Homo sapiens: one gene and its partners. The protein of the gene in region 1 purifies or fractionates together with the protein of each later gene. This does not show direct contact. Each region holds a gene or a part of one and is shown in the gene's direction. Other genes may lie near its edges.

Region 1 (5,564 bases):
GCCCTGACGTAGTTCCTGGCACTTAGTTGGGGCAGCTCAATCAGATTTTTAAAAACATTCCTACTAACTGCTTAATTAGGGTTCTTGGGGTACATGGTATCGAATAAGGCTATAAGAGTTGGTAGATGGGGCGCAGTGGTTCACGCCTGTAATCCCAGCACTTTGGGAGGCTGAAGCGGGCGGATCACAAGGTCAGGAGATAGAGACCATCCTGGTTAACATGGTGAAACCCCATCTCTACTAGAAATACAAAAAATTAGCCGGGCGTGGTGGCGGGCACCTGTAGTCCCAGCTACTCGGGAGGCTGAGGTAGGAGAATGGCGTGAACCCGGGAGGCGGAGCTTGCAGTGAGCCAAGATCGTGCCACTGCTCTCCAGCCTGGGCGAGACAGCAAGACTCTATCTCAAAAAAAAAAAAAAAAAAAAGTTGGTAGATGATGCTTAAAATCTCGAGACCTACATGTATGACAAACTTGACTGCCTCTTAACGTTTTAGTAAAATAATTTTATTATATTTTATTATATATATATTTTTGAGACAGTTTCTCACCCTGTCGCCCAGGCTGGAGTGCAGTGGCACAACCTTGGCTCATTGCAGCCTTGGCCTCCCAGTGTTGGGATTACAGGTGTGAGCCACTGTGCCTGGATGGTTTTATATATTTCAACAAGCCCTTCCCTTCCTTTTGTAAGAATGAACTTGTAAATAAGGCTTCTCTACCTAAATAGCTAAATCAAGGACTACTATTTTCCTCCAACCTATACCATAGAATACAGCAGTTCTTAGAGTGTGGCCCAGGGATCTTGACCTCTGGGAGTTCCTTTTTGGGGTCCACAGGTCAAAATTATTTTCATCATAATTCTAAGACTTTATTTGCCTTTTTCATTCTCATTTACTTAGGAGTGGAGAGTGGAGATTTCCAGAGACTACATGATGTGTGATATTGAAACAGATTGAATACTAAGATATGAGATATAGCCTTTACCCACATTAACAAATGCTTTTTGGAGTCCTTAATAATTTTTTTTTTTTTTTTTGAGATGGAGCCTCACTCTGTCGCTCAGGCTAGATCAGGCATGATCTCGACTCACTGCAACCTCTGCCTCCTGGGTTCAAGCAATTCTCCTGCTTCAGCCTCCCAAGTAGCTGGGATTACAGGTGCGCCCACCACCATGCCCGGCTAATTTTCGTATTTTTAGTAGAGACAGGATTTCAGCATGTTGGCCAGGGTGGTCTCAAACTCCTGATCTCAGGTGATCCACCCGCTTTGGCCTCCCAAAGTACTGGGATTACAGGCATGAGCCACCACACCCAGCCTAATTTTTAAGAGTTTAAACTTTTTGAGACCAAAACGTTTGAGAACTATCCACTTAATGTTTATGAAACTTTAAAAGAAGACTTTTATAAAAGGTAATTTCTGTATATTTCACTGTGCGATGTGAATGATATGCTTGAACTGTCTTACATTTTAGGTTCTTGGAGAAAGGACCTCTTTTAGCATAGCATGACACCCTCCTCCTTGTCATTGCTGATTAGATATAGGAACCCCGCTGGGTTCCAGGTTCCAGTAATTTTTTGTTGTTGTTTGTTTTGAGAGGGGGGTCTAGCTCTGTTGCCCAGGCTGGAGTGCAGTGGTGTGATCTTGGCTCACTGCAACTTCCACCTCCTGGGTTCAAGCGATTCTCCCGCCTCAGCCTCCTGAGTAGCTGGTACTACAGGTGCATGCCACCATGCCCGGCTAATTTTTTCTATTTTTTTTTTTTGTAGAGATGGGGTTTCACCATGTTGGCCAGGCTGGTCTTGAACTCCTGACCTCAAATGATCCACCTGCCTTGGCCTCCCAAGTGCTGGGATTATAAGTGTGAGCCACTGCGCTGGGCTCAGGTTCCAGTAATTGGTTGTGGGTTCTGACACCAGCTGGTGCATGGCCTCTTGCTTTCTTGTGTGATTTGGTTTTTATTCCCAACTTCATGGACTGCTACTGCTTAAGCTATCTGTACCTCACCCCTCCTTTGTTAAAAGGGGAGATTAGTAAATGGGTGTTAAGAAAAGTTGTTTTTATAATATTGGCATCAAACTGAAGCTCTCTCCTAGATATAATAAAGGAATTGAAAATCTATTAAGAGAAAAAAAACACAAAATATTAAAGAAGAGAGTGGATGGTGAGGAAAAATTAGGCAGTAGTCATTTTCTTTTCCAGCTAAATACTGGTGGGTGTCTTTCCAATTTGAGTGGTTTTAGAGTTTGTTCTCCATGAATGAGAAGAGTATTCTTGATTATTCAGTAGCATAGTTGATTTTATGAAGTGAACATTGGAAATTAGGCCAGAGGGTATTTTACCTCTCTGTCTAGGAAAGCCACCAAATGCCTGCAGAATGCTTGCACATCGTTCTCCACAGGCTAGGTCCTGAGCAAATGCTAACATAATTGAATTGAACTGAGGCTTACACTTAGTCCTGAAAGGCACTTGTCTCCCCTTCTGTCTGAATGCCCTTTTGTTCCTCCATTCTTCATACTCTAACATTCCCTCATTGATCTAGTCCAGGCAGTATTCTTTAATAAAACCCCTGTACTATTGCATAACCATAATTACTCATGCTTTTGGAGTCATTGAAATGCTTCTTATTCTCCTTATGGTAGAAGGAAATCAAGATGTTTGAGAGGTCAGTCTTTAAATGACACTTGACTGCAATCTTGGCCTTCAAGTTCTGCTTGCTTTTTTTTTGTTGTTGTTGTTTAATTTTTCTTTTTTAGAGATGGGGTCTTGCTCTGTCACCCAGGCTACAGTGCAGTGGCATGCTTCTAGCTCACTGCAGCCTTGATCTCCTAGGCACAAGGGATTCTCCCCGCCGAGTAGCTGGGACTACAGGTGCATACCACCACACTTAGCTAATTTTTTTTTTTTTTTTTTTTGAGATGCTATTTCGCTCATTGCCCAGGCTGGAGTGCAATGGCATGATCTCGGCTCACTGCGACCTCCACCTCCCAGGTTCAAGCGATTCTCCTGCCTCGCCTCCCGAGTAGCTGGGACTACAGGCATGTGCCACCATGCCTGGCTAATTTTGTATTTTTAGTAGAGATGGGGTTTCTCCATGTTGGTCAGGCTGGTCTCGAACTCCTGACCTCAGGTGATCCACCCTCCTTGGCCTCCCAAAGTGCTGGGATTACAGGCATGATTCCCGGCTAATTTTTAAAAATTAGTGACAGAGTCTTGTGGTATTGCCCAAACTGGTCTCAAACTCCAGGCCTCAGGCAATCCTGCCTCATCCTCTGAAAGTGCTGGGCTTATAGGCATGAGCCACCATGCCCAACTTTTTCTGTCTTTAAGTAGAAGTATTTACCAGTTGACCTCAGCCCTGGTATTTTTCAGCCCCCAGTAGTAGTAGGAGTGTCTTGGCCTCCTTTTCATTGAGGACCAGCTTACTGAACTCCATAATGTGCCTCAGTTGAACTGACTGTTGCGTTCTGGGACATGCTTCAAGTTGCCTTTTGGTTTCCCTGTCCAGGGTCCGGAGGGTTACAGTGGACTCGTCAGTCATTCTCTGAGTTGTGAGCCTGTTGCTACTGCTGCTTTGTTATTCAGAGGCTGGGGTTCCAGGGGAGCAGAGACAGAGAAGACTGCTGAGGACTCTAGCTAGCTGCTTTGCATAAGAAAGTAATTCTGAAGACTTATGATGTGAATATATGCATTTTGCATTTGCCAGTAAATAAGTTAGTTTGTCTTTAAGAATAAATTGATTCTTTTTGGAGGGAGAAGGAGGAGTTCTGTATTTTTCTTGTCCTCTCAAATCCTTGGAAGGCATTTTTAAAGGAGCTGGCTTCAAGATCGACCAGTTATTGTTAGCGACATGGACCTAGCTAGTTCCTAATATGAGTACTGAGTTGGTAAAAGCAGATGGGTGTATGTTGTCTGCTGTGACCTGCCATTCAGGAAGTGACACCCACAGAAAAATATCTTATGACCCAGACTAGCTTGAGTAGGCTGTGGGGTGAGGGGACAAGGAGAGTCATATGATATGAGGATGAATCACTTGGATAGCATATTTGCTTTTTTCCTTTGAATTACCAGTTTGGGGACTGGAGGGAATTAGATGAATGTAAAACAACCTCAGAGGGCTGACTGGCCTGTTGAAGAAAACACTCAGGAGGGAGGGCCATAGTTTCTAGGCATCCCATATTTCCAAAGACCTTAGAAGATTAAGTTACTGTCTGCTATAGAAGATGGATTTAATCTGTGTGGCATCTCATGTCCTGGTTTCTTGCCTATCAGAATTACTTAAGAGAGCTTCATTCTAACCAAGTAGCAGAGTCTTTTTCCTGCTGTGATTTTTCTCTTTGGATAATAAGGCTGCGAGAGGAAATCTCTTCATCATTGATGAAGGAATTTCCTTAACCTCATTCCATAATAGATTTTTTTTTTTTTTTTTTTTTTTTTTTTTTTGAGGCAGAGGCTTGGTCTTGTCACCCAGGCTGGAGTGCAGTGGCGTGATCTCAGCTCACTGCAACCTCCGCCTCCTGAGTTCAAGTGATTCTCCTGCCTCAGCCTCCCGGGTAGCTGGGATTACAGGTGCATGCCACCATGCCCAGCTAATTTTTGTATTTTTAGTAGAGACAGGGTTTCACCATGTTGGCCAGGCTGGTCTCGAACTCTTGACCTCAGGTTATCTGCCCACCTTGGCCTCCCAAAGTGCTGGGATTACAAGCGTAAGCCACCATGCCCGGCCCATAATACCTTCTTTACTTCCTTCCAGTTGGTAAAGTTTTTAGTCTTTCTGTAATTGGTGCAGAACAACAGTGTGCATAATGTAACTTCGGAAATTAGAGTTTATGATGTTAAATTTCTGGCATACCACATACAGAAAGATCCCGTAGGATAAATAGGGCAGGGGTGCATGCAAAAAAAGAGAACATATAACCTGTGATAAGTTAATTCCTCATTTTTTTGGGGGAAAGATTACTTTAGAGCCCTCGATATGTGCATTAGGATATTGTATCTTTCTGGAGGGCAGGAAGCAGTACCATATTGGCATTAGATGCTGCCAGTGACTCACGATCTACCACTGAATTGGCTTCTGTACCTTTTTTTTTTTTTTTTGTGAGACAGGGTCTCGTTTGGTCGCCCAGGGTGAGGAATGCAGTGTGGGCAATCTAGGCTCACTGCAACCTCCGCCCCATGGGTTCAAGTGATTCTCATGCCTCAGCCTCTGAAGTAACTGGAATTACAGGTGTGCACCACCGCGCCCAGCTACTTTTTGTATTTTTAGTAGAGACAGGGTTTCGCCATGTTGGCCAGGCTGGTCTCAAACTCCTGGCCTCAAATTATCCACCCGCCTTGGCCTCCCAAAGTGCTGGGATTACAGGCATGAACCCTTGTACCTGGCCTGCTTCTGTGTCTTGCTCCTAGAAATGTAGCAATCCATTTACCTTGTTTGTTTGAAGCACAAAGTTAGAGGTAGGTACTTATATGAGGGAAAAGAGATGGAGAAGAGGGAAAAAGGAGCAAGGAAGAAAGAGAAGACTTAAGATGTTCTTTGGCCACAACCCTTTCTAGCAGTGGGTCTCTTAGC
Region 2 (5,564 bases), on another chromosome or scaffold:
AGGTTTGTTACATAGGTAAACATGTGCCATGGTGGTTTGCTGCACAGATCATCCTGTCACCTAGGTATTAAGCCCCACATCCATTAGCTATTGTTCCTCCCTGCCTACCACACCTCCCTGACAGGCCCCAGTGTGTGGTGGCTCCCTGCTCTGTGTCCATGTGTTCTCATCATTTAGCTCCCAGTTATAAGTGAGAACATGCAGTGTTTGGTTTTCTGTTCCCATGTCAGTTTGCTGAGGATAATGGCTTCTAGCTTTATCCATGTCCCTGCAAAGGACATGATTTCATTCCTTTGTGTGGCTGCATAATATTTCATATGTACCACATCTTCTTTATCCATCTATCATTGATGGGCATTTAGGTCAATTCCATGTTTTTGCTATTGTGAATAGTGCCACATTTAACATATGCATGCATGTATCTTTATAATAGAATGATTTCTATTCCTTTGGGTATATACCCAGTAATGGCAATGCTGGGTCTAATGGTATTTCTACCTCTAGGTCTTTGAGGAATCGCCAGTCTGTCTTACACAGTGGTTGAACTAACTTATACTTCCACCAACAGTGTAGTAGCATTCTGTTTTCCCTGCAACCTCGCCAGCATGTGTTGTTTTTTGACTTTTTAATAATAGCCATTCTGACTGGCATGAGATAGTATCTCATTGTGGTTTTGATTTGCATTTCTCTAATGATCAGTGATGTTGAGCTTTTTTTCATATGTTTCATGGCTGCATGTATGTTTTCTTTTGAGAAGTGTCTGTTCATGTCCTTTGCCCACTTTTTAATGGGGTTGTTTTTTTCTCCTAAATTTAAGTTCCTTGTAGACTGTGGATATTAAACCTTTGTCAGATGGATAGACTGTAAAAATTTTCTCCCATTCTGTAGGTTGTCTGTTCACTCTAATGATAGTCTCTTTTGCTGTGCAGAAGCTCTTTAGTTTAATCAGGTCCCATTTGTCAATTTTTGCTTTTGTTGCAATTGCTTTTGGTGTTTTCATCATGAAATCTTTGCCCATACCTATGTCCTGAATGGTATTACCTAGATTTTCTTCTAGGATTTTTATAGTTTTGGGTTTGACATTTAAGTCTTTAATTCATTGTGAGTTAATTTTTGTATGTAATATAAGGGGTCTAGTTTCAGTTTTCTGCATATGGCTACCCATTTCTCCCAGCACCATTTATTAAATAGGGAATCCTTTCTCTATTTCTTGTTTTGGCCAGGTTTGTCAAAGATCAAGTTGTTGTAGTTGTGTGGTCTCGTTTCTGAGTTCTCTATTTTGTTCCATCTGTCTATGTATCTGTTCTTGTACCAGTACCATGCTGTTTTCGTTACTGTAGCCTTTTAGTATAGTTTGAAGTCTGGTAGTGTGATGCCTCCAACTTTGTTCTTTTTGCTAAGAATTGTTTTGGCTACTTGGGCTCTTTTTGATTCCATAAAATAGTTTTATCTAAATCTGCGAACAATGTCAATGAAAGTTTAATGGGAATAGCATTAAATCTATAAATTACTTTGGGCAGTATGGCCGTTTTCATGATATTGATTCTCTCTGTTCATGAGCATGGAATGTTTTTCCATTTGTGTCCTCTCTAATTTCTTTGAACAGTGGTTTGTAGTTCTCCTTGAAGAGGTCTTTCACTTCCCTTGTTGGCGGTATTCCTAGGTATTTTATTCTTTTTGTAGCAGTTGTGAATGGGAGTTCATTTATGATTTGGCTTTCTGCTTGCCGGTGTTGGTGTATAGGAATGCTAGCAATTTTTGCACATTGATTTTGTATCCTGAGACTTTGCTGAAGTTGCTTATCAGCTTAAGAAGCTTTTGGGCTGACACAATGGGGTTTTCTAGATATAGGATCATGTCATCTGCAAACAGATAATTTCACTTCCTCTCTTCCTATTTGAATACACTTTATTTCTTTCTCTTGCCTGATTGCACTGGCCAGAACTTCCAATACTGTGTTGAATAGGAGTGGTGGGAGAGGGCATCCTTGTCTTGTGCTGGTTTTCAAGGGGAATGCTTCTAGCTTTTGCCCATTCAATATGATATTGGCTGTGGGTTTGTCATATATGGCTCTTATTATTTTGAGGTAAGTGCCTTTAATCCCTAGTTTATTGAGAGTTTTTAACATGAAGGGATGTTGAATTTTATCGAAGGCCTTTTCTGCATCAGTTGAGATACTCATGTGGTTTTTGTCTTTAGTTCTGCTTATGTGATGAATCACATTTATTAATTTGTATATGTTGAACCAACCTGGCACCCCGGGATGAAGCCAACTTGATCGTGGTAGATAAGTTTTTTGATGTGCTGGTGGATGCAGTTTGCCAGTATTTTGTTGAGGATTTTTGCCTTGAGGTTCATCAAGGATATTGGCCTGAATTTTTCTTTTTGTTGTTGTATCTCTTGCCAGGTTTTGGTATCAGCATAATGCTGGCTTCATAGAAGGAGTTGGGGAGGAGTCATTCCTTTTCAATTGTTTGGAATAGTTTCAGCAGGAATGATACCTGCTCTTCTTTGTACCCTGGTAGATAGAATTCAGCTGTGAATCCATCTGGTCCTGGGCTTTTTTTGGTTGGTAGGCTATTTGTTACTGTCTCAATTTCAGAACTCATTTATTAGTCTATTCAGGGATTCAATTTCTTCCTGGTTCAGTCTTGGGAGGGTGTATGAGTCCAGGAATTTAGCCATTTCTTCTAGATTTTCTGGTTTATGTGCATAAAGGTCAGCAGCTAAGTGAGCTCTTGAGGTTTGGGGAGACTTGGTAGATCTGGAAAACTCTTCAAATTAATGCTGTGAGAACCAGCTTCAAAAGTTGTTGGTCACATAGTTTCTCAGCACAACTTTTAAATTCCAGGGAAATAGTTATTATTCCAACTTTGGTCACTATCACCTTGGATCAGTATTGGAAATGGCACCCTTGATTGATAGCTGCCCCCCGCCCCCCGGCCCCTTGCCAAAGACCGCATCCAATGGGAGTGGGAGACAGATTCCTGTTACTGAAAGAATGAAGTATTGATGCTATGCAGGCAAAAAGCCCTAAGCTGTTCCCTATCACTTAATAATTTGTGGACATCCCATGTGGTTTGTGGTAATATAACATATATTTGAAGCATGGCATGCTTTTCCCCCTTTTCACTAGTTGTTGTGCAGGGAAGACTTGAGTTACATAAATAATTCACAAACACTTCTTACACAGATTAATTTAAATGAGAGCAGGGAGTGGTGGTAGCTCTCATTTTTTCATTGACTTTAGGTAGACAAAGAAATCTGGTGCAGAGTAAACCTGAATATGGAACTACTTAAATCCTGTTGAAGGAGCGATCATGGGACGCTGGCATTGCTGTTCCCTGTGTGCCTCCTGGTTTAAAAACCTAGGTCTGAAGGGCTGTCAGTTGGAGAACTTTAATGAGCCCTCATTACACTAAACCGTGTGGTTTATGAGAGAAGAAACTGGCTTATGATTGATACTGGAAATCATAAATGGTGATGGGTCAGAATTGGAGTTGGCACTAATTCACCTAGCAGTGGAGCAAAATTTAAGATTATATACAAAATCTGGTAATTTCATTTTTTAGCCATTATTTTTTATGTATAAATATAGTCTAATCATTTTCATTTATACTATATAACACTTTTAAAAGGTGGAGAAAGAATTTTGCCAGCTGATGCTGACATTTTTTTTTTCTTCCTAAAATGGAGGCTTATTAAATTCTCAAATCATCAGATAATCTTGACAGAGATCCTGGTTTGAGATTTTACATAAAGTTTATTTTAATGAAAAACATAATTTCTGCTTTCAGGTTTCTTCTCTATATTTGTTATACTTTTTAAAAAATGCATGTGTAATTTAATCACACTATGCAGTTTTAAAATGTAGGGTCACAGAAAGTCATGGAAAATGCTAATTAGTTACTATGTTATCACAAAAACATTTTAAAACTATTTTAAGTCTGATTTGTCACAATTTGTGATTTTGTGTAATAAATATATATACATATATAATCCCATTTAATCCTTGTGAAACCAAATGAGCCTATGTTATCTTTTACAAGTGAAACTCTGAAGGTTAACTTTCCTAAGAGCACGTGGCTGGTGTATCGTAGAGCCAAGGACCATGCCCTTAACTGCTGTCCTATGCTGCATATGTTAATATTGCCACCCTTGTATATAATTTTGGCAAAAAGCACTGGGACATTTCTTTTCCCAAAGCCCATCTCTTTACTTTCAGTTCCCTGACAACTTCTTTATATTCTGAAACTGTTAAAATGTGTTGTATTATCCATCATCTTGTGCTTCTGTTTGTTGGGAATGTGGCAACAGCTCCTGTATTGCAGCAGTGTGCCCTGTGAAGCCATTTGTTCTTTATGTCTTAGAGCAGCCTGACAGCCTTTCGTGTTAAATTCAGCAAGATTGCTTTTCATTTAACAAAGCTGAATGTTGCTTTCTAGGTGAAAAATAATTAAATGCTTTTAAAGATATATTTGATTAACAGGAAGCTGATCTGTGTAAATTAATTATAACCATAATGATGTCATAGCCTTGTCTTTTGTTATTAGCCAGGTAATTGACCAGAAGTTTAGAAGCTTATTGTAACTGACAGTTAGTAGTTTGACCTTGTGTGCTGTCTGAAAGTGAAACATGCACAATGAATGTAAATGCAATTTGTTCATTGAGCTGCATGTGCTGTCAGAACATCTGATCTTGGGTTCTTGTTTTTATTTTTCCATTATTTCTTTGTTGAAATTGGTGGTCAGGATTATATACTCACAGTGAATATTATATGTATTTATCTTACTAAAAGCATCTGGCCAAACGCAGTGTTGCTTGTGTCCTGGAATAACTATAATCAGACTTGAAACCTTGGCACATTTAAGACATGCAGTCAAATAAACAAATGCCAAAATTAAATGAATCTCATTTTTAAAGTTTGTATGAAGGATAGTAAAACAACTTTTGGTAGAGAAATCAGAAAAGGAAAAATAGGGGCATATTTGATAGAGAATTTATCCCCTCTAATTCTGATTTTTCTGAGAAAATTAAAAGCATTTGGTATTTTGAATATTTGAGTAATGAAAACTTCCAGCTTTTGTAGGTTTGATTAAAGAATGGAAGTGTAGGCCGCGTACAGTGTCTCACGCCTGTAATCCCAGCACTTTGGGAGGCTGAGGCAGGTGGATCACCTCAGGTCAGGAGTTAAAGACCAGCCTGGCCAACATGGTGAAACCTTGTCTCTACTAAAACTGCAAAAATTAACCAGGCATGGTGGCGGGTGCCTGTAGTCCCAGCTACTCAGGAGGCTGAGGCAGGAGAATTGCTTGAACCCGGGAGTGATTCAGCTCAGCAGTGAGCTGAAATCGTGCCATTGCACTCCAGCCTGGGCAACAAGATTGAAATGCCATCTCAAAAAAAAAAAAAAAAAAGGAAATGTAAGAGTAAAACATGGAGAACATGGAGTAGAAGTGGGATAATAATGAATGACAATCAGCCATTATTAAATGGTTAAAAAATATGTAAGTACTATATATGTAAGTAAATGTGGCATTTTACCTTCAAAAGTCCTGACCTTT
Region 3 (5,375 bases), on another chromosome or scaffold:
GAGGCAGGCAGATCACGGGGTCAGGAGGTTGAGACCATCCTGGCTAACATGGTGAAACCCTGTCTCAACTAAAAATACAAAAAATTAGCTGGGCATGGTGGCAGGCTCCTGTAGTCCCAGCTACTCCGGAGGCTGAGGCAGGAGAATGGCATGAACCTGGGAGGCGGAGCTTGCAGTGAGCAGAGATCGTGCCACTGCACTCCAGCCTGGGCGACATAACGAGACTCCGTCTCTAAAGAAAAAAAAAAGAAGTAAAGGGCAGAGCTCACAGATGGCTTTTTTCTTCTGATTGCCAAAGTAATGTCTTTTCATTGCAGATATTTTGGAAACTAAGAAAAGCACAAAGATGAAAACTAAAATCAGCTGTAACTGTATTATTCAGAGATACCCTAATGAGTATTTTGATTTATAGCTTTCCTGTCTTTTTTATGTGTACGTACATATACTGAAAATCAGTGGGCTTGCTCTGCACGTTACTGTATTGTAGCTTGCTTGTTTCATTTCATCATGTATAAGACATTAGTAACATATTGGCAGGTAAGTGATGAAGAAAAGGGGATTAGATGTCCTGGGATCAGATGATGGGTCTGTCCTGCTGTGTGATCGAGGACAAGTAGCTTAACATCTCTAAGTCTCAGTTTTTTCATTTGTGTAATGTAAGCAACATTGGGAACCTCGCAAGGGTTCAGTGATAGTTCCTATAAACTATTAGCCTAGTTTGTAACTGTCCACTATTATCAAGGAGGTTTTTGGGTTTTTTTTTTTTGAGACGGAGTCTCGCACTGTCACCCCCCGGGCTGGAGTGCAGTGACGTGATCTCAGCTCACTGCAACCTCTGCCTCCCAGGTTCAAGCGATTCTCCTGCCTCAGCCTCCCAAGTAGCTGGGATTACAGGCGCCCACCACCAAGCCCAGCTAATTTTTTGTATTTTTAGTAGAGACAAGGTTTCACTATGTTGGCCAGGCTGGTCTCAAACTCCTGACCTCGTGATCCACCTGCCCCGGCCTCCCAAAATGCTGGGATTAACAGGCGTGAGCCACTGCACCTGGCCAAGGAGGCTGTTTTTTGTACCTCTACAGCACTTAATGGACACTGCAGTTGAATGTGTGGAGGCTTGTTTACTAAAAGTCTGACACAGTCTGGTTATAAAAAACAGTGTCTTCTGAGTGCTATTTGAAAACCTGTCCACTAATCAAAAGTGTCATTTATAGTAGGGAATCATTAAAAAAAATACATAAATACATACCCCCTTAAATAGTTAATATTTGAATTAAACTCAAAATATTAATACACACTGAGTTGCCCGTAGTTTGATGTAGGATTGCAGGCTTTGAGTGCTGGGCCACTGGTTTCAGCTGCATCTTGCACACCCTCCTTCATAAAACATAATCTACCATTGCTACTTTGAGTTTCTTTTGGGTGGGGTCAGAACTTAAAGGCGTATGAACTGATATGCTTCAGGAGTTTTAATTTGTTTTCAATTTTATACAGTAGTTTAGGACACCCCTCATCTGCCAAGAACTTTTTTCTGTGACATTCCTTTATTGGATTTTTCAAACTGTTCAGCTTAGTTTTTGTGGATACTCTTTTTGTCAGTTTATATGATAATTAAATTACTCAACACGACGATAACAAGTACAACTGACATCAAACAGATGTGTGAACAAACAATTGATTCTTGACAAGCACTGAATTCAGTGGTGTGCCAGTGTGCTAGGGAGTGGCCTAAAATCTAGATGTGGGCCTTGGTCAGTTTACGTTTGGAATGGAGAATCTTGATTGACCCAGCAGTCCATTTAAGTGGAGGTTGGCAAGGAAACTTGGCCTGAACTTCATTTTCTGGTTTGAAGGCAATGACATGCTTTCATTCTTTAATCAGGAACATGTGAACCGACTGGCATTCTGTATTCTGAATTCCTCCTGGGACATTAGTGATGTGTTTTTTTGTAACTTAGGAATTGTACCTAATTTATTTTTTAACCAAATAGCATATCTTCTTGAGATGGCTAGCTGAGAAAGAGTATGACACAAGTGTGATCAAGGATCAGCAAAATTAACTACCCATGCAAAGATTAAACCTGTTACCTTTACTTCCCTAATGTGGTATTTTAACTAGCTGAGCTAACCACCAATGGAGTGATGGTATGGCCTTTCCTGTACTCAATTCAGTAATTGAACAGTTATTTATCGAACCCTCTCCAGATGCCAGGCACCCTGCAGAAAGTAACATTCTGAAAAGGAACAGCCATGCCTGTAGCCCAAAAGTGAGTAGTTGTATTAATGGTCCATTCCTTATTAACAAATTAATTTCCTCAGGAGTTTATTGGACCAGATATCAAAGTCCCACTGGAATGTCTTAAGTGAGAGAGAGGATAAATCAAAGTTTTCCTTATCCAGGCTTTTTGGATGTCTTTTTCCTGAGCCTCCTCTTCCAAGCCTGTTTTGCTCTCAGTCAGGATTTACCAGCACTCTGCATGTGTAGGCACGCTCACCTGCTTCCTTCTGTAGTGGTAATGACAACCTACATTTGTATTCTGCAGTTGATAAAGCCTGTTCGTGGTACAATACCTCATTTGACCCTCCCAACAACTGTAGGGTAGATGTTATCTACATGAAATTGAGTCTCAGAGAGGGTAAGTAACTCACCCAGGTTACACAGTAAGTAACAGAGATGACACACGAGTTCAGCTTTTCTGGAGCTAAGTTCTCCTCTTCCTCCACCCATGCCCAGCCACTCATATCCTAGGTGTAGATCAGAAGGTTCTTAAAAATATTGTTAGACTGAGCTTTAAAAGCAGTTTGGATCAGAGATTTTCATTGTCTGTTTTGTGTTCACATGGCAGTCGAAAGTCTCTAGGTTCCATTGCATTATACCCTTCTTAGAGGCTCCAGAATAAATTTTTTTATAGTGGTGGGGAAAAGCCCTTATTCTTAGAATAAGAATATAGATCATTGGTAATAGTAATCAGTTCCATTTCTTATGAGATACTTGTCAGGATTAAATGACATAATGAATTTAAAGTATATTGCCTGTCATAGCAAGCACTCTGTTACTGTTAGCTATTATCATTTATGACTATTGCTCTATGTTGTTTTTTGTTTGTTTGAAGAATGGGCTCTTAACCTTGTACGAGAAAGAAAAGGGTGAGGAAGAAAATGGATTGAAGGAATTGTAGGAGACTAAATGTTAAAAGTCATTAAACTACCTTCTGGTTTATCTAGAAATCCAATTGAGTGATTTGTTAGTAGACATGAAACAAAGATAGCTATGATTTTAATGAGAAGCCTTCATATTCAGAAAAGCTGCGTGGGAATTTTTGATACATACAATAACAGTTTGAAAGTACTAGCAGAGTTTACTTAATGAATTCTACTTTGTATTATTTAATAAAAATGACCCTATAATATATATGTCATTTCTCCTATTTTATATCTGATATAAAATATCATCTATTTTATAACTGATCTGCCTATTTGGGGTGGAAGATTAAGAAATACAATTCTTATGTGTGTGTGCATTTTTAAAATTAATAAACTTAGCTCTAGGTGGATTATTTTATATTTACTTTTACTTTTTTTTTGTTTTTTTTTTTTTGAGACGGAGTCTCGCTCTGTCTCCCAGGCTGGAGTGCAGTGGCGCAATCTCGGCTCACTGCAAACTCCGCCTCCCGGGTTCACGCCATTCTCCTGCCTCAGCCTCCGGAGTAGCTGGGACTACAGGCGCCCGCCACTACGCCCGGCTAATTTTTTGTATTTTTAGTAGAGACGGGGTTTCACCATGTTAGCCAGGATGGTCTCAATTTCCTGACCTTGTGATCCGCCTGCCTTGGCCTCCCGAAATGCTGGGATTACTGGGATTACAGGCGTGAGCCACCGCGCCCTGCCTACTCTTACTTTTGAATATGTACGTTTTGTAATTGTTAATGAACTAGATTCTTAAATAGTGTTGACATTGTTGGGACTTTGGATAGCCACTCACTTTTTCAGACTAATAGGGCATAATTTACTTTATTGTTTTCTATTACCTGAGATTGTGTTTATATATTATAAGAAAATCATTTTGGAGAAAAAAGGAGCCAAGATGCATCCTTTTGTTCTATGGACTGTAGTGATCTAACAGTTGATGCCCTGCTGCCTTCATTTACCCTCATTCCAGGAAAGTGGGCTATAGCTGGTTTGAACTTAAATTTTGCGATAATGTAGTGTTCACTGCAAAATTCTCTGTACCAGCCACATTTTAAACAAAGTGGAGGCAGCAGTTAGATTTCGTTGCTTAGCCTTTTCCTGTGGCAGTAAGTGGGATCACAGACTGATAGAATTTTATAGCTGAAAGAGACTTTAGGTACATAGGTATCTTTATTTTATAGATCTTGAAACTTCCCCACGATCAATGGGCTTGCTGGTTAAAAAAGCTGGGAAAAGACCCAGATCTCCAATCAGCTGCCTGCTCTGGAGAAAACGAACTCAAACCTTAGCCACCTTAAATATACCTTTTTTAGAAGTACGCAATGTATAAACACAAGTGAATAACTTAAAGAATAGTCTGTTGAGATGAAACAGAATAGTCCATATTTTGGGTGTGTGGAAGGTAATGCATGTCAAGGTCTACGTCTTCAAGAATTGTAACTCTTGGGGGACCACTGCCAGTTTGCAAACAATTCCACTCCTGGAAAAGGTTTAAGAGAGTTTCTCTCCTTTATGGAGTGCATAGCTAATACTTTTCAAAATAAGTGGATTCTCAGTCGTTCTGGTGAATTTTTTTAAGTTTAAATATTAATATCTCCAACATTCAACTTTATATTTTCAGGGATCGATTTGCTTAGTGGTATAATACCTGAACTCTGTCAGAAATATCCAGATTTAAATTTCATAATTGGAGGAGAGGGACCAAAGAGAATCATTTTGGAAGAAGTTCGGGAAAGATACCAGCTGCATGACAGGTATTGATGAATTTCATGTTGTCTTGAGGGAGAAGATGTCAATTATCTCTATTTGGTTTTAACTGCATGCGTACCTTAGGTGTGTTGCTTCTCCTGCATGTAATTGATATACATATAATTGATATAAATCTAATGCAAGGACTGTTTTCAAAATTTTTATATAAATAGGAAACCTAGTTAATTCACTATTTTTTCCATTAGCCCAATATTATTTGACTTTGGGGGGCCATTGTTGGAGGCACCATGAAAGGCACAAAAAACAGCTGCTTTAACTGGAAGCGTTTGCAGATTTCCAGGCCATACTGTGTAGTGATTTAAGTAATAGGGCTCAAATCATGTAAATTGCTCTGCACATACAGATTTGGACAAGTCTCTTCCTCAGTAACTTACACAACACAAGGCTTGTACGTGTAAAGCATCAATTTTAATAAAAAG
Region 4 (5,564 bases), on another chromosome or scaffold:
TAAAGCTTTCAGATGGTTGTGGGTATTCTTTATTTTTTAGTTTATTTTTATTTGGTTTTTTTTGAGACGGAGTCTTGTCTGTTGCCCAGGCTGGAGTGCAGTGGCACGATCTCGGCTCACTGCAACCTCCACTTCCCAAGTTCAAGCGATTCTCCTGCCTCGGGCTCCCGAGTAGGTGGGGTTACAGGCGCATGCCACCACGCCTGGCTAATTTTTGTATTTTTAGTAGAGATGGAGTTTTGCCATGTTGACCAGGCTGGTCTTGAACTCCCGACCTCAGGTGATCCACCCGCCTCAGCCTCCCAAAGTGCTGGGATTACAGGCATGAGCCACCATACCCGGCCAGTATTCTTTAATACTACCCAACACTCCACAAGTGCTAGTTTCTTAAAATGGTTACAGTGGAATTTTGTGTTATCAATGAATTTTTTATTAGTACTCACCCATCTGTCTTGTACAATATATGTATCATTTCCCCTTACTTGGTTTTCTAATATTATGCATTGGTTATATGGAAAATATTGGTTCACATCTCTTCTTTCTTTTTTTTTTCTTTTTTTTGAGACAGAGTCTCATTCCATCACCCAGGCTGGAGTGCAGTGGTGCAGTCTCAGCTCACTGCAACCTCCGCCTCCCGGGTTCAAGCGATTCTCCTGTCTCAACCTCCCAAGTAGCTGAGATTACAAATACATACCACCATACCAGCTAATTTTTTGTATTTTTAGTAGAGACAGTGTTTCACCATGTTGCCCAGGCTGGTCTTGAATTCCTGAGCTCAAGCAATCCGCACACCTCAGCCTCCCAAAGTGCTAGGATTACAGGCGTGAGCCACCATACCCAGCCTGGTTCACATTTCTTGACAGTGGCAAAGCTCACTTTTGTTAGTATCACCACCAATTGTATTAAAAAATCTTTAAGTATTGAGAAGCTGTTAAACTCACATAATAAGGTACAAGTTTCTCCAAATCCTGATTTTTAGTTTGAAAGCTTGAATTTTATCATTGCAACAAATAGTGTTATTTTCTTGAAGTGACAGGCTTCATTTTTTTAAAACTTTTTATTTATTTATCTTTTGAGACTGAGTCTCACTCTGTTGCCCAGGCTGGAGGGCACTGGTGCCATCTTCGCTCACTGTAACCTCTGCCTTCCGGGTTCAAGTGATTCTCCTGCCTCAGCCTCCTGAGTAGCCGGGACTGCGGGCGCCTGTCACCATGCCTGGCTAATTTTTGTATTAGTAGAGATGGGGTTTCACCCTGTTGGCCAGGCTGGTCTCGAACTCCTGACCTCAAGTGATCCACCCGCCTCAGCCTCCCAAGGTGCTGGGATTATAGGCATGAGCCACCACACCTGGCCACTTCTTTCATTTTTGAGAATGACATTTGTACTTTCAAGTAAAAATGATATTCTGTGAAAAAAAAATGGCTTGTTTAGCTCACAATTAAATCACAAGTGCTTTTCCTTAACACAACTCTACCTCGGTATGCAGAATTACTTTATGTGAACTTTCTGCTTACTCCAGAATAGTGAAAAGAAAGGTCAAGATTTAATAATACCATTAATTTTTACTGCTTCAGCAAGGATATTCATGAGTGAAGCAGGTGTTTTTCTTAAACTGCAAGAGGCAGTAAAGAGTAGCATAACTTCTAGTATAATTTGGTAGCACTGCCTTGATTCATGCTGAGAAGCCAGCAGTTTGCCCACTTTTGCTGTTATACACTCATTACAAATGTCATACAGTCAAAAAGCAAGCAATACCTTAGTATTCTTTTTTTTTAAATTATTTTTATTTCTAAATTTTCAATCAGCTTTCTCAGGTTGAATAAGTATTCTTAAAAGAACAGTTTTGACCTCAAGGACCTCTTGGAAAAGGATCTAGAGGGTCTCCAGAAGTCCACAGACCACACTTGGAGAACCACTGGTTTTATTAAATGAGCACAATGTATTAGTTTTATAAACTTGTAAAGATTATCAAAGCCTTGTCTCTTTTAAAATAAAAAGACAATAAGGTTTTTAACTCATCAAACTACTTAAACAAATACATGTCAAGAATGTAATACGGAGAACTAGAAAGGAAAAGCCTGGGAAATCTGAATTTCATTCACAGTCATTAAAGTTCTAAAGAGTTTATTGCCCACCACTACTGCTGTGTAAAACGTTCTTGAGTTCCAATGAGGGGTTAGAAGAGTGAAAATATACTTTATTACCATTGCCTGTTAGGGAGGGCCAATACTTAAAGGCAATTCTGAATCGTCATTGTAGAAAAGACCTCACAGTACAGAACCTCATATGCTGAGTAAAAAGAGGTCAGGAAATCCTCTGAAGGCTGGCATCCCGGAGAAGAATTTGTACAACTCTTTGCTTTGGTGAAGCAAACACCAAAGCAAACAGGAGGCATCTCCCGCCACCCCCAGCAGACATTTTACTCAGATATTAACAATTCCTGAATTAACTTCTTCAATGCATATTCTTATTTTATAGAGATGCAAATAGATCCCTGGATATTTTTGATGAGAGATCACATCCACTTACAGTAAGTGTCACTTTTTTTGAGGTAGTATTTTTCTCTCATAGAGTTGTGTTTATTTCATGCTGATATTTATAAATAGTCCTAACAAATATACATGATCTCTATGAAGATAATTAGAAAACAATTTAAATTTAAATCAATTAAAATGGTGTAAACATTTAAAAATTCACTTCCTCAGGTATATGATAGCCGCTCGTGGCTAATGACTATTGTCTTGGACAGTGAAGCCTTTGAGCCTTATGGTTACAGGAAACTAAAGATATTTTTTCAGGCCGGGCACGGTGGCTCATGCCTGTAATCTCAGCACTTTGGGAGGCCGAGGCAGGCGGATCACGAGGTCAGGAGATCAAGACCATCCTGGCTAACACAGTGAAACCCCGTCTCTACTAAAAATACAAAAAATTAGCCGGGCACGGTGGCAGGCGCCTGTAGTCCCAGCTACTTGGGAGGCTGAGGCAGGAGAATGGCGTGAACGTGGAAGGCGGAGCTTGCAGTGAGCCAAGATCGCTCCACTGCACTCCAGCCTGGGCGACAGTGAGACTCCATCTCAAAAAAAAAAAATTTTTCAAAGTGTATTTAAGAGAATCCTAACATATGATTAGTAAGACTTTCGAGCCTACAAGTAGTTTACATTTTGATAGAATTCTGTGGATAGAAAGTGGAAAGGAACATAAAAATTTTCTGAGTTGTGCCTGTATTTTTCCTTAATGATAAATGGTGATGAGTATTGAATCACTATGATATTTTAAGATCCAATTGTTTATATTTTAAAAACTAAAAGTCATGTCACTCAACCAGAATTATTTTAAGGGGTACATGGGCTCAAACGTCAACACTGCTGGTCTTAGGAGTACTTAGGCCAGCTGGGCATGGTGGCTCACCCCTGTAATCCCAGCTCTTTGGGAGGCCGAGGTGGGCAGATCATGAGGTCAGGAGTTTGAGACCAGCCTGGCCAGCATGGTGAAACCCTGCCTCTGTTAAAAATACAAAAAATTAGCCGGACATGTTGGTGCACGCCTGTAATCCCAGCTACTCAGGAGGCTGAGGCAGGAGAATCACTTGAACCTGGGAGGTGGAGGTTGCAGTGAGCCGAGATTGTGCCACTGCATTCCAGCCTGGGCGACAGAGCAAGACTGGGTCTCAAAAAAAAAAAAAAAAGTACTTAGGCCGGGCGTGGTGTCTCACGCGTGTAATCCCAGCACTTTGGGAGGCCAAGGCAGGTGGATTGCCTGAGGTCAGGAGTTTGAGACCAGCCTGACCAACATGTTGAAACCCCGTCTCTACTAAAAATACAAAAACTAGCTGGGCGTGGTGGCGGGTGCCTGTAATCCTAGCTACTCAGGAGGCTGAGGCAGGAGAATCACTTAAACCCGGGGGGTAGAGGTTGCAGTGAGCCAAGATCATGCCATTGCACTCCAGCCTGGGCAGTAAGAGTGAAACTCAGTCTCAAAAAAAAAAAAAAAAAGCTTAAAATTTTTTTCTTCAGTGGATACTAACATTGCATCTTTTCTTCTTTCAGCGAGAAAAAGTTCCAGAGGAATACTTTAAGCATGATCCTGAGCACAAATTTATTTACAGATTTGTTCGTACTCTTTTTAGTGCTGCACAGCTAACAGCTGAATGTGCAATAGTAACTTTGGTAAGATATTTCTCATTTATAAAGTGTCTTTAGAAATTAGTCTTGTACACAGGGTATGGTCCTATTTTTCAAATAAAAATAGGTTCCTGAAATTATCATCAGAACTTTAAGAGAAACCTATGAAAGGAACATAAATACGTACATTCGCGTTTAATCATCATTATGGTTGAACATGTTTCCATTGCTTTTCTCATCACAGAACAGTTGCTACAAAAGGCAGCCGGGGAGATTTCTGGTTTCTCCCCCTACCCATCAATGCACATGTACACATTCAGTGTGTACACATACAAGGCATGGTGGCAGGGCTGGGGGTGATGGGGAGTGGTAACAAAACCATGTGGTTCAGAGCCAGATACTGATTCCAGTGTAGGTCTAAGCCAAGTCCCAGGCTCTATTCCCCAGGTATTTCCGATATGTGTGGTGATTGAGAACTATTGCCCTAAATTCTTTGTTCCTTGGATGATGGGTTTTAATCATCTCTGCCTACCTCTTGTGCCTGCTCGTGATGTTGCCCAGCAATGTGGTACCAGCAATACTTGGACAAAGGCTTTGCTGATTAGCTTACTAAGCTATAGCTGTGTCCTTAACTTTATGTCCTCCATACAGAATTCCTATGGTAAGATTTTATCATTGAATAATAAATCCTATTCAAGTGGTTAGGATTGTTTTACTCCTCCCCACAGCAAACCTATAGAGGAAGGTCAACTGCATGGCCTGGAGGGAAAGAATACTTAGGTCAGTACCTACTCCTTTAGCATCCAATTGGAATTTAGGAGAGAAGGCTTCTGTGCACTTGAATAGAAGCCCCTCAGTGGGTACTGGATCAGACTTAGGCCTTTTCATGGAGCTGTAAGCCATTTGGAACACTTAGCACATACTGTAGAGAAGCAGGAGTGGTGCTTCCAGATGTAGAGAGACAGGTGATACAGGAGAGGAAGCTGTACAGGAAGAGGGGAGTTCATTTTAGATGGTTTAAGCTCTATGTGCCTGTGAGGTAGCAGTGACAGTGTCCAATAATCATTTGAATGTACCGGACTGGAGCATGAATCTGAGCTTAGAGGTAAGGAATGAAGAGTTATAGTAGCTGTTCAAATACAGAGAAAGGTTGCAGAATGAAAGTGGAGAAGCTAGGCATGGTAGTGCACACCTGTAGTCCCTGTTGCTGGGGAGGCTGAGGTGGGAGGATCACTTGAGTGCAGTAGTTTGAGTCCAGCTTGGGCAACATAGCAAGACCCCCATCTCTAAAAAAAGAAAAGAAAGTGGATAGAAGATAGATCTCTAAAGACTGTTAGCATTTTTGAGGGACAAGCTCCCAGATGGAGTGGAAGGAGGAAACCCAGGAGAAGGTAATAAAAGAACAGAGATCAAGATAAGAGAGGCTATGGTCCCAGTGTTAAA
Region 5 (3,500 bases), on another chromosome or scaffold:
GCGCTGGCACTGCTTCCTGCTGCTCCTGGGCCTCCACTGCAGCCTGGGGCAGGTGGAGGTCTAGGGGGTTGGCTGTCAGCCATCTATGATCTCTGACTTCTTTCTCTTTTCTCAAATGGTGGTATCTCTTCTTTGAATGTACCCCGGCGTCTGCTTCCTCTGGGGAGCTTGTAAGGATGAGCTGTGCTCTCAGCTCCTTGGCAATGGGTTCCAGGCAGCGTGCCGAGGGAGGGCAGTCAGGCCTGGGGGGCTGGCAGGGGTCTCAGTGCCGGCGCCTCCCCTGCCCTGCAGGATCTCCCCTCCTCACTGCCCTCCCCGAGTCTCCAGGATCAGCCGCCTTTTGGGGCTCCCTCCAAGGCCCTCTCCCCATAAAACCAGGTTTGGTTATGCCTGTCCTCTGCTCCCCAAGTCCTCCCCTGCACTGCCACTCCTGGGACCACAGACTGTGATCATCTTTCTCCAGCTGGACTCTGAGCTCTCGGAGAGCAGGAGCCTGATGTGGTCATTCTTACATCCTCGGGGCAGCCCAGCAGAGAGCCCTGCACACAGATGCCAGGCAGTACTGACTGGAGGAGCGAGTGTGGTGTGAGTCGTGCTCTGTGGCCCTGAGATGTAGGGGCTGTGGCGGGGGCTCAGCCTTAACCAGTGGAACTGTGGAGCCTAAATGAGCCGGACTTGATTTCTCCTCCACACCTAAGCTCAGTGGCCAAGGGGGCACAGTCCCCACTCCCAGCTCAGGTCACTCTAGTGGCTGCTCCTGGCAGTGCCTGGGAAGATGTGCAGTGGAGGAGGGAGCTTGGCTCTGGCTGTGGGTTTCCAGCTCTCTGTTAGGCAGCTGCAGGCCAAGGTGGCTCTGTGGAGTGGGGAGCATGTTCCTGTGGAATCCTTGGGGTCTCAGAGCCTCACCACTCTGGCCTCATAATGTGGCTCAATGAGCTTGAGTGTGGACAGCCCGAGGCCCTGGACACAGGTTCACTGGGCCTCCCAGAAGCCTCCGGCTGCCCTTTTCTGAACAGATCCCAGTGAGGTGGCTCAGGGCAAGCGAGACCTGCTCCTCCCCGGAGGGATCACACAGATGACAGGGAAATGCTCCTGGGGAATCAGAATGAAATTTACTGATTGAGGATAGGAGAGTGATGAGATCATATGAGTTTACTGAATCTGTTTAGCAGAATGAAAGGGCAGTGCCGTGTACTACAGCTCCTGGGGGGTGGGGAATAACGCCATGCCAGCTGTCCAGGTGCCCCTGAGAGGCAGCTGAGAACGCTGCCCTCCGCCGACCAACTTCAGCTAATAGGAACCAGGGGCTGGGGCTGGCCGCCTCTACAGGTCATGGTAGAATGATGTAGGCACGGGGGAGATACTGAAGGGAGGACTGGCCGTAAGACGCACGGAGCCCGCCATGCTGCTGTTAGTATCGATTCCTCGAAAGCCCCACAGCCTGCTGATATGGACTGGAGAGACCCATTGCATAAGTTCTGGATCTGGCCCAGCTGTGTCACCGCGGTGTCCCCTCAGGCCAGATGAGGTTAAGTGACATGGGCAGGGAGAGCGCTGGCACAGTGTGGGCCTCAGTGACTGGTGTGGTCACTTCATCTTCATTGCCCTCCTTCTGCTCAGAGGGGGGCGGTGTGGCAGTGGGACCAGCAATTCCTCAGCACCCACGGTGTGCTCACCCCTGGGGGAGGAGGTCATCTCCCCGTAGATGCCCAGTGGCATCTACACCAGCTGTCTTCTTTTTCTTGTTACTTGTGTCACTCTTCTTATTTCAGAGGTAGAGTTTAGCCTGGTTCACCTCTGGGCTTTAGATCCAGAGAGCTGGGTTTACAGTGAGCAAGTTCCCAGGGCTAGGACAGGGTTCTTGGGGAAAATAAGGGAAACTGTCCCTTCCTCCCACTCCCTGTGCAGAAATGGATTCGTTCACAGAGAAAGATGCCCTCTGTGCTGCTGAGAGACAGACTCTGCCCAAGTGAATGAGCTCAGCGCCCCAAAGCAGAGTTTTTGCCCAGGGCAAGAGGCTGCCCCCGTTCGGCATCTGTGGGGCGCCCATCACGTTCATCCATTTGCTAAACAGGCTCCTGTGTGCAGGGCAGCCCTCCACATCTGCCTTGCTTAGAACATCATGCAGTGTCAGATGCAGCTGAGTAGGACCCAGCCAGAGGAGGTGTGGCCAGTCCCCCAGGTGCTCCTGGAGGTGGCCCTGCCAGGAGCCTCTCCCCTGAGTGGTGGCACCCAGGATGCTGGCAGGACCTGGCATGCCTTCCCCTGAGACCATAGGAAGGGCCCGGAGTCTCTCACCACTCCCAGAGAACATCCCCCTACCCAGGATGGGCCCAGGAGGAGAGGTCTAGGCAGGAAGGGCCAAAGCCCAGCTCTCCGGCTCCGGTCCAGACTCCCCCAACGCCCACACACACAGGCACACACACAGGCACGCACACACACTCAAGCACATGGATGCACACAGGCATGCACACACAGGTGCACACACATAGGCACACATGCACACGAACACACACAGGCACACATAACAGGTGCATGCACACACACACAGGCACATGCACACAGCCACACACACGTGTGCTGGGAGACCCTCACATAGCTGGGAACTCTGCAGTGGGGAGAGCCCGGGTCACCCTGTCCTCAGCCTCCCCAGAGAGCCATGGCTGGTGTCCAGTCCAGTCTCTGCCTCTGGCCCCGACATGACGGGTTCTCCGGAAGCAGGGAATGAGATGTGCTGTGAGGTGTAACTGACTCAGGTTCCATCTGGCAGCCTCTCGGAGGAGCTGCCGAGTAGCCCAGTCCCTCTCTGTCAAGCCTAATTCTCTCCTTCTCTTTCCCTGTCTCTGTGTCTCCCTCCCGCTGTCTGTCCTCTCTCCTCCCTTCCTGCGGCCGCAGAACCGCATGCACGAGTCTCTCATGCTCTTCGACTCCATCTGTAACAACAAGTTCTTCATCGATACCTCCATCATTCTCTTCCTCAACAAGAAAGATCTCTTTGGCGAGAAGATCAAGAAGTCACCTTTGACCATCTGCTTTCCTGAATACACAGGTGGGTGCCAGGCAGTCCTGTGCAGGGGGAAGCCTGCCCCTGACAGGGACCCATGGCTCAGAGAACAGGCTGCTCGGCCAGCACTGCTGGGGCTAGCTGGCGAGCGGGACCCATTGCAGGAGACTGGTGGGGCGCAAAAGAAAAACAGTGCTGTGCCACCAGGTTTGGGCTTCCCAGGACACAGCCCTCAGCGTGGTGGAAATGGCCCCTCCTAAGATATATGTGTTAGGACCAAGTGACTCAGGAGTGGTGGGGAGCAGGGGGCAGGACAGGATCACAGGCTTCCCCCTTCCTCCTGGTCACCCTCTAGAAGAGGTCTCAGGACAGCCTCCTGTAATCTCAGCAGTGGCCTCCCCTCACCCCTGCCCAGAGCCCCACAGCACCTTTGCATGAAACCGAAAAGTGGACACGTGGCCTGTGAACAGGGCCTGGACTGCCTCTTGGCCCCACC
Region 6 (5,564 bases), on another chromosome or scaffold:
TGGTGTGCTGGGCGTGAGGGGCTGCTCCATGCAAGGGCCCCTGCTGTGCCAGTCGGCCTTATCCGGAGGAGGACAAACTTGGGGAGTCCAAATGAGGGGGTGCAGGGTAGAGCAAGGCCCCCTCCGAAGTCAGGTCCTCAGCCCGGCCACCCTGGGAGCAAGAGCAGGCCGTTTCCCACGGTGTCAGGGCCCAGGGCCTTGAGACAGTCCTGGGGGTGGAAGGTTTCTGATTGCGAGCTTTCCACAGTGACTGCCCACTCCAGGTTTGGGCGGGAACAAAGGACGAACGCCCTGGCAGTGCTGAGCTCTTTGGGGCAGGCACTTAGGAGGCTGCGGTCATCCTAGGTGGGGCCTCGAGCTCAGAAACCGCACCAGAGATTGTTCAAGGGTGCACTAGTCTGCTCTCGCACTGATGTAAAGAAACACCTGAGACTGGATAATTTATAAAGAGGAGGCTTCATTGGCTCGCGGTTCCGCAGGCTGTACGGGAAGCGTGGTACTGGTGTCTGCTCAGCTTCCAGGCTGGCCTGGGAAAACTTTCCATTATGGCGGAAGGCGAGAGGGAAGCGGGCACGCTTTTATGTGGCCAAAGCAGGACGAAGAGGGACGGGGGAGGTGTCACCCATTTTCAAACAAGCAGACCTCTCGAGAACTCACTCGGTATGAGGAGAACAGCATGGAGGGGATGGCGCTAATCCATTCCTGAGGGCTCCACCTCCATGACCCAGTCACCTCCCACCAGGCCCCACCTCCAGCATTGGGGATCACAGTTGGACATGAGATTTGGTGGGGACGCAGATCCAAACCATAGCAAAGGGCAGGGCCTGTGGAGAAGAGGGCTCCGAGGAGCCTGGTGGGTTTGGAAGAGAGTGAGTCTTGATCGGGGGTTCAGGGCGTTTAGACCAGGGTTGGCAAGCTTTTCCGTTAAGGACCAGCTAATAAAGAGCCTCATCTTCGTGGGCCACACTGTCTGTGGCAGCTGCTAACTCTGCCGTAGGATCCTGAGATTGGCATAGTCGATTGTGAGAGAACCGGCGGCACCCTGTCCCAGAGAGTTCACTCAGACCTGCTGGGAGTGGGCTTGGCCGCGCGGGTGGCACTCTGACCTACACAGTCACTTGGGATTGTTTGAAAATATATTTTTAGGCTGGGCGCAGTGGCTCATGCCTGTAATCTCAGCACTTTGGGAGGCTGAGGCGGGCAGATCACGAGGTCAGGAGTTCAAGACTAGCCTGGCCAACATAGTGAAAGCCTGTCTCTACTAAAAATACAGAAATTAGATGGGCATGGTGGCGTGCACCTGTAGTCCCAGCTACTTGGGAGGCTGAGGCAGGAGAATCACTTGAACCCAGGAGGCGGAGGTTGCAGTGAGCCGAGATCATGGCACTGCACTCCAGCCTGGGTGACACAGCGAGACTCTGTCTCAAAAATATATATATATTTTAAAATCTCATCTAAATTTTAAATTGGCATCTTGGGTAGAATTTCACAGACAATTCTTGAGGCAGTATCTTAACCACTTTTACGGGTTACTGACTCTGTTTTATTTGGTGGTGAACTCTTTGTTATGACTTGGTGAAGTTGAACAGCAGGTTATGCTCCTAGTATGTTTTGTAGGTAGATTAATTTTATTGTCATTACGTTCTGCCTATGATGTGTAACCATTCTTTTTTCAGGCTGAATAACTATAAAAAGTCTTGGCTGTACAAAGCGGGGTCTCTGCTTGTGATCGGACACCTCGTGGTGAATGCCGCCTACTCAGCCACGGCCCTGTATGTGTCCCATTTCAACTACCCAGGTGGCGTCGCAATGCAGAGGCTGCACCAGCTGGTGCCCCCCCAGACAGGTGGGTGCTGGGGGCACTGCCTGGGGACTGCTGTGGCTCCGACTGCAGGGCTGGGCTCTGACGGCAGGCCTGGTTTTCCTAGACGTCCTTCTGCACATTGACGTGGCAGCCGCCCAGACAGGTGTGTCTCGGTTTCTCCAAGTCAACAGCGCCTGGAGGTAGGATCCACACACAGCACGGCCCTCCCAGAGGCCATGTGAGGGCCCCTTGGGGGCGGGGGACAGGGCGATGTGGGGGCCCTGGGCAGGACCACCAGCTCTCATCCCACAGGTACGACAAGAGGGAGGATGTGCAGCCGGGGACAGGCATGCTGGCATACACACACATCCTCATGGAGGCGGCCCCTGGGCTCCTGGCCCTCTACAGGGACACACACCGGGTCCTGGCCAGCGTCGTGGGGACCACAGGTGTGAGTCTGAACCTGACCCAACTGCCCCCCTTCAACGTCCACCTGCAGACAAAGCTGGTGCTTCTGGAGAGGCTCCCCCGGCCGTCCTGAGGGGGACCAGGCAGCCCTCAGCAGCCACAGGCCTTCCAGGAGCTGTTATCACTACCAGTTTCTGGCACAATTCCAGCACAATTATGACAATTCAGAGAAGCAAGTCAAAGGACTGGGCACCTGCCTCTGACAGACACCAGACCAGGTCCAGGGCCTCCTCCACAGCCTCAGCTGGGGCTCTCAGCACCAAAGAACGAGGGGCCCAGGTCTTGTTGGCACCCCGGGAGCCACTGCCCAGGGTGATGGTGGCCAGCTCAGGGCTTCCTGCGGGTGACTGTCGCCCAGACCAGGTGCCATTCATGACTAATCAGGAGCAGCGGGCTCACCCAGGCACCTGTCTGCCAGGAGGCCACGTGTGTCCTGCCCACCCAGGGGGAGCTGTATTTTGGCAGCACCCCACGCTTGCTGCCCGAGGGCCTCTTGGGGCACCTAAGACAGCACCCCCTCTCAGGGGAGACCATGGTGGCCCCGGCCGCACCCCCCCACCCTGGTGCCACCACTGCAACTTTTGTATTCACAGGCATCCCATCTCCATCACAGATAAAATCTTAGGAGATAAACACATTCAAAAAGGAATGAGATAAAAAGAATAAGGCAATAAATGTTGATTGGAACCTCTCAAGATTACAGAAAATAATGAGAATGAAATTTTAAAAATGTTTCCTATGTGATAGCTTATCACAGGTGACTATTCCAGGTGTTATGGTAAAGGGACAGCTTGGTGCTGTCAGCCTCACTGACCATGCATTTATAAAGCACCAAAGTGCGTGTGATGCTGCTGGGCACTGGAGATGGGACCAGGTGCTGCTGCACACGTATGCACACACCATGCATACATGCACACACACCACACACGCATGCACACAGTGCACACGTGCACACACCATGCATACACACCACACACCGTGCACACGTGCACACACCATGCATACACACCACACACAGTGCACACGTGCACATTACCATGCATCCACACACAGTGCACACGTGCACACACTATGCATACACAGTGCACACGTGCACACACCATGCATACACACCACACACCGTGCACACGTGCACACACCATGCATACACACCACACACAGTGCACACGTGCACATTACCATGCATCCACACACAGTGCACACGTGCACACACTATGCATACACAGTGCACACGTGCACACACCATGCATACACACCACACAGTGCACACGTGCACATTACCATGCATACACAGTGCACACGTGCACACACCATGCATACACACCACACACAGTGCACACGTGCACATTACCATGCATACACACAGTGCACGCGTGCACATTACCATGCATACACAGTGCACATGTGCACACACCATGCATACACACCACACAGTGCACACGTGCACACACCATGCATACACAGTGCACACGTGCACACACCATGCATACACAGTGCACATGTGCACACACCATGCATACACACCACACACCGTGCACACGTGCACACACCATGCATACACACCACACACAGTGCACACGTGCACATTACCATGCATCCACACACAGTGCACACGTGCACACTATGCATACAGTGCACACATGCACACACCATGCATACACAGTGCACACGTGCACACACCATGCATACACACCACACAGTGCACATGTGCACACACCATGCATACACACCACACACAGTGCACACGTGCACACACCATGCATACACACCACACACAGTGCACACGTGCACATTACCATGCATACACAGTGCACACGTGCACACACCATGCATGCACACCACACACAGTGCACACGTGTACGTTACCATGCATACACACAGTGCACGCGTGCACATTACCATGCATACACAGTGCACACGTGCACACACCATGCATACACACCACACACAGTGCACACGTGCACATTACCGTGCATACACACAGTGCATGCGTGCACATTACCATGCATACACACAGTGCACACGTGCACACACCATGAATACACACCACACACAGTGCACACGTGCACACACCATGCATACACACAGTGCACACGTGCACACACCATGCATACATACCACACACAGTGCACACGTGCACATTACCATGCATACACCACGCATGCACAATGCACGTGCACACCATGCATACACACCACACATGCATCCACACACAATGCACAGATGCGCACACCATGCATACACACCATACATGCATGATCACACGTGCACACACCATACATACCCACCACGCATGCACACACACAATGCACAGGTGCACACACCATGCATACACACCACACAATGCAATCGTGCACACACAATGCACACGTGCACACACCATGCATACACACCACACAATGCAATCATGCACACAATGCACACGTGCACACACCATGCATACATACCACACATGCACACACGTGTGCATAAAGACATGATTTCTTCCTGTGCTCTTTGAGAGCTTGTGGCTGTTGCCCAGGTGCCCTGGGGCTGCCTCTCCACCTGATGCCTCCTGGTTTTCCCATTGCGTCTGGCGAACATCTGTGCAGACACTTCCTGACTCCCACAGAGGCCAGATGGTGAGGGCTGGAGAGCAGGCTTCCTGGCCCCAGCATCCCACAGACATGGGCTCCCTCCCCCATCCATCCACCTGTGTGTCTCAGGTATTCACTGGTTATCCACGCTCGTTTGTTCTCTTTTATCGCTGGCCACATGTGGATTGCCTCCCGACTTCAGTGGTCTGTGAGTCACTCCTGTCTTTAATTATCCTGGTGTTCAAAGTGTACGAGATTTGCTGGCGGGAACCCTGCCATGCTCTGCCTGTGTGCCGTGCCTCTCCTTCGAGCACCTCCTCATGACCAGGCATGGCAGGGCGTCCTCTTGGGCCTCTGGCCTCGGCCATTGCTCTGTGGGTCTTGGCTCCCTTTGGTGGGGAACAGCGTTAGAGACCGGGATCTAGACACGAGGTGTGCTCGATGCCACGGGGTGCCTGAGCTTTAGGCCCTTTCTGTGGACAGGCTAGGGAGGACAGGCATGCTGCGTGCAGTTGCACACGTACATATGTAATATGTGTGTACAGATCTGAAACAGCACAGAACCGTGCCTGGATTCCGTCCCACCTTGCACGGTTCTCCCCCACCCCCCATCTCCACCCTGAGGACCCTGGCCCCCAGCAACAGCAGCATCCTCACGCATCTGCTAGGGAGTCCAGTGCACGCCTGCTCGAGAGCTCCAGTGCAGCTTTGCCACA

The links.
Region 2: the proteins of PI4K2A (region 1) and RHBDD1 purify together in Homo sapiens (affinity purification with mass spectrometry; one large-scale study listed by BioGRID and IntAct). This does not show direct contact.
Region 3: the proteins of PI4K2A (region 1) and PIGA purify together in Homo sapiens (affinity purification with mass spectrometry; one large-scale study listed by BioGRID and IntAct). This does not show direct contact.
Region 4: the proteins of PI4K2A (region 1) and CCNYL1 purify together in Homo sapiens (affinity purification with mass spectrometry; one large-scale study listed by BioGRID and IntAct). This does not show direct contact.
Region 5: the proteins of PI4K2A (region 1) and GNAO1 purify together in Homo sapiens (affinity purification with mass spectrometry; one large-scale study listed by BioGRID and IntAct). This does not show direct contact.
Region 6: the proteins of PI4K2A (region 1) and ALG12 purify together in Homo sapiens (affinity purification with mass spectrometry; one large-scale study listed by BioGRID and IntAct). This does not show direct contact.

Annotation. Positions count from the first base shown.
Region 1 is NC_000010.11:97,645,203-97,650,766, forward strand, and holds part of PI4K2A (phosphatidylinositol 4-kinase type 2-alpha), read left to right. Parts: intron 1-5,564. UniProt on the Homo sapiens protein: Membrane-bound phosphatidylinositol-4 kinase (PI4-kinase) that catalyzes the phosphorylation of phosphatidylinositol (PI) to phosphatidylinositol 4-phosphate (PI4P), a lipid that plays important roles in endocytosis, Golgi function, protein sorting and membrane trafficking and is required for prolonged survival of neurons.
Region 2 is NC_000002.12:226,841,349-226,846,912, forward strand, and holds part of RHBDD1 (rhomboid-related protein 4), read left to right. Parts: intron 1-5,564. UniProt on the Homo sapiens protein: Intramembrane-cleaving serine protease that cleaves single transmembrane or multi-pass membrane proteins in the hydrophobic plane of the membrane, luminal loops and juxtamembrane regions.
Region 3 is NC_000023.11:15,325,479-15,330,853, reverse strand, and holds part of PIGA (phosphatidylinositol N-acetylglucosaminyltransferase subunit A), read left to right. Parts: intron 1-206; exon of another isoform or gene 207-2,540; coding exon of another isoform or gene 2,541-2,633; intron 2,634-4,807; coding exon 4,808-4,940; intron 4,941-5,375. UniProt on the Homo sapiens protein: Catalytic subunit of the glycosylphosphatidylinositol-N-acetylglucosaminyltransferase (GPI-GnT) complex that catalyzes the transfer of N-acetylglucosamine from UDP-N-acetylglucosamine to phosphatidylinositol and participates in the first step of GPI biosynthesis.
Region 4 is NC_000002.12:207,738,177-207,743,740, forward strand, and holds part of CCNYL1 (cyclin-Y-like protein 1), read left to right. Parts: intron 1-2,478; coding exon 2,479-2,530; intron 2,531-4,046; coding exon 4,047-4,166; intron 4,167-5,564. UniProt on the Homo sapiens protein: Key regulator of Wnt signaling implicated in various biological processes including male fertility, embryonic neurogenesis and cortex development. Activates the cyclin-dependent kinase CDK16, and promotes sperm maturation.
Region 5 is NC_000016.10:56,348,489-56,351,988, forward strand, and holds part of GNAO1 (guanine nucleotide-binding protein G(o) subunit alpha), read left to right. Parts: intron 1-2,895; coding exon 2,896-3,049; intron 3,050-3,500. UniProt on the Homo sapiens protein: Guanine nucleotide-binding proteins (G proteins) function as transducers downstream of G protein-coupled receptors (GPCRs) in numerous signaling cascades.
Region 6 is NC_000022.11:49,900,619-49,906,182, reverse strand, and holds part of ALG12 (dol-P-Man:Man(7)GlcNAc(2)-PP-Dol alpha-1,6-mannosyltransferase), read left to right. Parts: intron 1-1,676; coding exon 1,677-1,846; intron 1,847-1,928; coding exon 1,929-2,004; intron 2,005-2,116; coding exon 2,117-2,345; 3' UTR 2,346-5,564. UniProt on the Homo sapiens protein: Mannosyltransferase that operates in the biosynthetic pathway of dolichol-linked oligosaccharides, the glycan precursors employed in protein asparagine (N)-glycosylation.